Linked DNA regions of Homo sapiens. The protein of the gene in region 1 purifies or fractionates together with the protein of each later gene. This does not show direct contact. Each region holds a gene or a part of one and is shown on either strand. Other genes may lie near its edges.

Evidence for each region.
Region 2: the proteins of ABCB5 (region 1) and KCNK5 fractionate together in Homo sapiens (co-fractionation; one large-scale study listed by BioGRID). This does not show direct contact.

What each region holds. Positions count from the first base shown.
Region 1 is NC_000007.14:20,754,263-20,757,508, forward strand, and holds the end of ABCB5 (ATP-binding cassette sub-family B member 5), read left to right. Parts: intron 1-1,164; coding exon 1,165-1,362; 3' UTR 1,363-2,746; downstream 2,747-3,246. UniProt on the Homo sapiens protein: Energy-dependent efflux transporter responsible for decreased drug accumulation in multidrug-resistant cells. Specifically present in limbal stem cells, where it plays a key role in corneal development and repair.
Region 2 is NC_000006.12:39,194,743-39,198,567, reverse strand, and holds part of KCNK5 (potassium channel subfamily K member 5), read left to right. Parts: intron 1-2,580; coding exon 2,581-2,692; intron 2,693-3,807; coding exon 3,808-3,825. UniProt on the Homo sapiens protein: K(+) channel that conducts voltage-dependent outward rectifying currents upon membrane depolarization. Voltage sensing is coupled to K(+) electrochemical gradient in an 'ion flux gating' mode where outward but not inward ion flow opens the gate.

The DNA.
Region 1 (3,246 bases):
CCCAGGCAGTTAATCCACCCATGATTGCTGCTTGAAGATGATTATTATTCTTGATTCTCAAAGCAACAATGTGTTATGAAAAATAAACAACAACTAACTTTTGGGATCAGACATATCTGGGCTGTAATCCTTACTTCATCAGTTACTAGCAGTATGACCTTGGTCTAACCTCAGTTCAGTTATCAGAAAAATAAAAATACTGTCATTTTATGAGGTTATTGAAAGAATTTAAATGAGATATCCATCTTGGGAACATTTTATGTATTCAACAAATATGGGTTTTCACCTTCCACTCCCACTTTCTCTATATAGCGTCATAACCTCACTGTTGGCTGAAATGCTATGTTAACAGGACAGTTCTACAGCTAAATCCTACCAAAAACAAAACAAAATCTATGAGAGAAAATTAGATAAATAAATTAGACAATTCTACTTAGGTATACTACTTAGAAATACTACTTCCTGACTTTGAGTTTAGAACTACTCAAAGAAATGATAGTAGAAATTTGAATAGTATTAGAACTACTCAAAGAAATTGTAGTAGAAATACTACTATAATTCTACTTAGAAATACTACTTCCTGACTGTGAGTTTAGAACCACTAACATATAAACAACTATTTCATTTTTATTCATTCTCACAAATGCTTTTCCACTGAAAGTCTTACATAATTTATCTGTAGCTAATCTTTCTTTTTTTTTTTTGAGACGGAGTTTCACTCTTGTCACTTAGGCTGGAGTGCAATGGCACGATCTCAGCTCACGGCAACCTCCACCTCCCAGGGTCAAGCGATTGTCCTGCCTCAGCCTCCCAAATAGCTCGGATTACAGATGCCTGCCACCACACCCAGCTAATTTTGTATTTTTAGTAGAGATGGGATTTCTCCATGTTGATCAGGCTGGTCTCGAACTCCTGACCTCAGGTGATCTGCCTGCCTTGGCCTCCCAAAGTGCTGGGATTACAGGCATGAGCCAATGTGCCCAGCTGTAGTTAATATTTCTAGATTTCTATTGAGTAAGGTGATTATTTTACAAGTAGGGCAGTTCCTTTGGGGACAAGCAAATAAAGCAAAGAAGGTTATTAGACTACCTTAATTGATTTGACTTAGGTAAGTTTACTAACATCTAACTCAAACTGGTGATCACAGGTCTTTCTCTCTTCCAGGTGGTTCAGCATGCCCTTGATAAAGCCAGGACGGGAAGGACATGCCTAGTGGTCACTCACAGGCTCTCTGCAATTCAGAACGCAGATTTGATAGTGGTTCTGCACAATGGAAAGATAAAGGAACAAGGAACTCATCAAGAGCTCCTGAGAAATCGAGACATATATTTTAAGTTAGTGAATGCACAGTCAGTGCAGTGATGCTGTTGAGGTAGCACATATTTTGATGTTCGTGTAATGCAAAGAAGGAGTACTTAATAATTACTTGGCAAGCTTTGATCTCTTTTATTGCATATATCAATACCTAGAATCATGCTACTCAAGTACATACATGTTCTATTCACACACCATCTGACCTTCAGATTTTTAAAAGGAAGCAAAAATTTGCTTATTTCATGTAAGTGAAATAATGCTTATATCCTTCACTTTATAAAACTATTCTAGCACATTTGCTTGTAAAGCAGTTTTCTACAAGGTGAATTTATTTCCCATCAACTTCTGCTATAAAATCGGAAATATGTTTCCAGGGGGAATATTATCCAATTAACCATGTTGAAGGTTTTAGCAAAGGCAGTGTAAGATAGAGTGGGGCCTGTAGCATTGCAGGGAGAGTGTCTTTCACTTGGAATTTTGTTTTGCAGCACATATTACAGTAGTTTTGCTAGTCCCTTTTCTCCAGACCGTAGGGATTTCTCTCAATAAGTATTCACTATTTCTCTAAATTTTATTCTATTTTTTTGTTGAGCAGGGAATAGAAAGGATTACGATGTAAAATTTCTGGGAGGATTAGGTAGCTATCTCCTACTTCACCAGTAAGTGAAGTGCCTCACATGAGCCATCCCAAAGATTCATTATTCCAAACCTTGGGTTTGGCAGTATAAGTCACAGGCCTACCTGTTTATGAAAACTTACTTACTTAAAATAAGAGCTACTTTTGGGCCGGGTGCGGTGGCTCACGCCTGTAATCCCAGAACTTTGGGAGGCCGAGGAGGGCGGATCACTTGAGGTCAGGAGTTCGAGACCAGCCTGGCCAACATGGTGAAACCCCGTCTCTACTAAAAACACAAAAATTAGCCAATCTTGGTGGCGGGCACCTGGAATCCCAGCTACTTGGGAGGCTGAGGCAGGAGAATCATTTGAACCTAGGAGGCAGAGGTTGCAGTGAGCCGAGATCTCACCACTGCACTCCAGCCTGCGCAACAGAGCGAGACTCCATCTCAAAAAATAATAAATAAGAGCTAATTTTATTGTGGGTGAAAATTTTTAAACGTCTTTCTCTATAATAAAATAATTTCCTTAAATTTTATATATACTTTATCATATATAATGTGTGAATGATTTTAAAGTTCTGTGTAAATAACAATATTGGTAAAATGAGTTACATTTTCAACTTACTTAAATATGTAATGTCACCTGGTGATTTTATCTTTATTCTTCAGTGTATTTTCTTCCATTTACACATTTAGCTAGCCTCCCTAAAGTGTACTCTACCAATAATTGAAATCTTGTTAAACAAAATTAAAACCATTTATATATTATGCTGCTTTCTTTAAAATGCAAAATAAAAATAAGATTGGGGACTTGAGAATCAGATGCATTGCTTAGACACATTGGTGCTGACTGCCATGTGGTTATTTTGCTATTCATGGATATAGAGCTCTTGGTAGCTTCTCTTCCCGGGGTAGGGTAGACAAGAAGAAAATAAAAATATAGTATGGACATGCTCAGAACCTCAGAGCAGGAGCACCACAGGCTCCAATTCTGTAATCCCTCCTAGAGGGGCAAATATGGTACCTGAAATGCCTGCTTACCCTTTGAACCTATCAACATCTGTCCCATACCTATAGATAGCAGTAAAACACATTCCTTTCTAATGTATAACCCTGCTAGTTTTTATTTCCATTTTATTTTTAATGAGTTTAAAGAACGCTTCACAGGCAGAATTCTCATCAATAAAGCCACTGCCTGCACTGGACCAAGCAATCATGCTGAGAATTGGGGTCCCAAAGAGTTTTTAAGGATTTGTAAGGTTATCAGCTGATGAAGGCAGAAAGTAGGTAGAGATCAACTACTTTTTAGGGGTTG
Region 2 (3,825 bases), on another chromosome or scaffold:
TCTACCAGTCTTTTCCAATCCAAAGTATAAGACTTAAACATTTAAGTGGATACTTGTATGTTGTTGATTTTGGCCCCTATATCCAGCCAGATGATTTTGAATCTTGATACTGCCATTGCTATGTGTTAGCTATCTTCCCATCCCATCCTTATCCCCAATTTTGCATCCACTGCACATTGGATTAGTAAACCATCTCTGTCCTCACTGTGCTGTGGTTTAAAATATTGAAGAAAACCAGGCCTTAAGCATGATGGTGGAGACTCAGTCTGGGTTGATAATGATCAATACCTCCTAGGGTTGTTTGTCTGCCTTTGAATGGACCCAATTAATCCTGGCTCCACTGACATTTCTGTGTCTTGTCCACATGAATTTCTTTAATCCCATCTGTTAGCTGCCTTGCTGATATCTAGATGGATTACATTCCACAGAACTTCAAGGCTTTGCAACCCTTTGAAAAGGAGATGCACTTAGCTGAGCATGACTTGTTCTGGGTGAATCTGTGCTAGTTTCTAGTGCCCACTACTTCCTCTTCTGCATGTTCCAAACATTCTCCTCTCCCCATTTTGAAGTTTGCAAGAGTTCAGGTTTGTTTTCTGAATTTCTAGAATCCACTCTTTTCCTTTTTGTGAAAAATGGGAACAGCTTGTCTTCTGACATCTTTCCTGTTCCCCATGATTCCATGGGGATGACCAGAGGTGGTGCTGCAGCCTCACCTGTGATCAGTGATTCAATTATCATTTCAAGATGTTCTTGTATGTTCTTATATACTCTTTTCTTGTAGGCCGGTCCCATTCAAGATCGATATCTGAGGTAGCAAAGGTAGATGCCAAAGGAGAGCTGGGTGGTTCCGCTTTCTCTGCCATCTGTTTAACATTAACGTGGCCCTGGTACTTCCTCATTCTCTTGCTCCAAACAGATTTGATGTTTTCAGAAACCCATTGGATGGTCCTTAGTATTTGTTTTAGCTCTCCTGTTGGCCTGTTAGTATCTAAATGTCCTTTAGCCATTTCACATTGAAATGGTCTGGCCAGCTAGACAGAGAGCTCTCTGAGGGCAGGGGCTGCCTTGGCCAGAGTTTGATGCGATGGTCCCCACTTTCCACTTTGATGCTGCACAGCCTTCGTAGCCTCGGAGATGCTGTGAAATGCCGGAGGAGGCAGCGCAGTGAGCTGTGTGGTTTGATGGTCTGACAGACAAGCGTGCCATCATGGAAAATTCTTTGCAGAGTGTGCAGATCCATTTACGCAGGCCGGCTGCTGCTTCTGCAAATTACACTTTCCTTCAGAACAACCCACCCATGCCCTTTTTTTCCCACCAAACCTCAGTCATGCTCTGGGTAGGTTAGAAACAAGGTTTTTTTTGTCTCCCTCTGTTTCCATCCCTCACTCTTCTGTCTCTTCTCTCTCAGTCCTTGTCTTGGTTTTTATAGGCAATTTGGCTGAATGCCTAGCTTCTGGTCTGGATGGCCTACCCATCTGCAGGCGCTCCTTGGGGACAGGACTTGAGCCCCAGATTTAGAGTCCCTTCTTATGTGACTTCTGGGGTCCAGGCCCTGCCAGCTGATAAAGCCCCACAGATAGGTTGGAGCCAGTGGTGATAGCAGAATTGGGGCCTAGTCAGATGGAAACAGGTTTGCAGCTGTCAGTATTGTAGGAGTAGATAAGTTCCCCACACCTCTGCCCCACCGCTCCTCGCACTCTCCAGGGGGACATCCCATCCCCAGGTGGCCTCTCACCTGCTATCCACAGTTACTGGAAGCTCTTTGGGGATTGATAGCACAGTTATGAGTCACCCTGAAATGTACTCACCCTCTGATCTGTCCCTTCCCAGACAGCTGCTCAGCCCAGGGCAGAGAGAGAAAGGGCTACAGGGAAGGGAGGGAAGTGAGATCCCACAGGGGAGAGGGTACATTAGAGTCCTAGGCTGGGGGAAAGGAGGACCTGCTGATTTGCATGCCCTCCGAGGACAAGTCAACAGGGCACTGAGCTGACCTGAGCAGGTATCCTACAGTAGGCTGAAGGGTATATGGGGGGCCCCTCCCCAGCCAACCCTGAACAAGGACCTGGTCTCTGCAGGTAGAACACCCTCCATGGAGGGCTGGGTGAGGCACAGGGGACCTCCTTGTGTGTGTCTGCCTCACATGTGCTTTTTTTGAGAGGCAGAATTAATCTAGTGCAGTGGTTCTCAAAGTGTGGTCCCTGTCCACAGCATCACCTGGGAACATGTTTAGAAATGTTCCTTCTAGACCTCCTAAATCAGAAACTCGGAGTAGTAGGGGCCAGCAGTCTGTTGAACAAGATTTCCAGGTGATCCTGGTGCATGCTAGTAAGTTGGAGAAGCATTGACTCAGTGAAAGAATGAACTTTGGAGCCAGATTGCCTGGGTTCATATCTTTACCTTGGGTAAATCAGGTAACCTCTCTGATCCTCTATACAATGTTTCATCTGTAACATGGAGACACTGCCACCTTCTTCTTGTGATGACTAAATGAAAATGCTTACAAGGAGTTTAGTGCAGTTCTGTCAATCAGCATCTGTTAAGTGTGGCCTCAGCTCTGACCTTTACTGTTTCTCATTTTAGGTGGTATCTGATGCTGCAGGACAGGGTGTGGCCATCACAGGGAACCAGACCTTCAACAACTGGAACTGGCCCAATGCAATGATTTTTGCAGCGACCGTCATTACCACCATTGGTAAGTCTTCTGGGACCTGTAGGACACCCACATCCATGCCCTAGCTCCTCAGAACCTTTCTAGAAACCCAGCTCTGGTCACTCAGCCCTGTTGGGGGTACAATCAGATCAGTTGCAGGCTATTCTTTTGATACTTTCTTAGGGATTTGTTAAGTCCTTGGTAGCTGATCATGCCTGGGAAGGTTTCCTTGAGTCTTGACCTGGGCTCTTTGAGCAGAAACAATGACACAGCCTCATGGCCAGAGCCATGCAAGAGATTAACCAGACTGCTCATTGCAGAAACCCAGATCATGACTACTTACCAAGCTGGGTGTCTGTTTCAGTTCTCAGGCTGCATAGCCAACCAGTCCAGAAGTTTGGCTCAGAACGCAGCTTCTTCTCTTTCACCATTCTGTCAGCTTGACTGGGCTCAGCTGGCTGGTTCTTGCTTGGGCTCCCAATGCAGTGGCAGTCGAACAATGGCTGGGCTGGAGTCTTCTGAAAGCCAAACTCATCTGATGGCCCAGATGGCTCCTCCCATCACAGATTTGACAGTTGATGCTGGCTGTTGGCTGGGAGCTCAGCTGGGGATGAAAACACAAGGCCTCCGCATGTGTTTGGGAACCAAGGCGAAAAGCAGCAGGCTTCTTAGACCTCACCTGTCCAGCGTCTCTTCCGCTGCCTAGACTGCTTCTGTTGTCAAGCCACTAAAGCCCAGATTCCAAGGGAAGAGGATTAGATGACACCTTGATGTGAGCAGTTGCATAAGAAGGGAGGGAATGGAGGATGGCTATCTTTGGAGACCATCTACCACAGTGCTTCTGGGGAATCTACACAGAGAGCATGTCTTATAACTTGCACAGTGGTACCATATAGACTAGTGGAAGACCTGTTGACCAGGCTTAGTCCCTGCCTTCAGGGAGCTCCTTGTATGATGGAGGAGATACAGCTCATGTCATCATAATTGCTTTATCAATGATCATGATCAGAGTATGATCAAGGGAAATATCATTACTTAAGTACTGACAATAGATCAATATCAATTTATCTTAGAGAACGGGCTGTGTGTGTGTTGGAAGCAAGGCCCACTGGTTTGACCACCCCTCCTGTTCTTGGCCTCACTCTCTCCTTCCTCAGGATATGGCAATGTGGCTC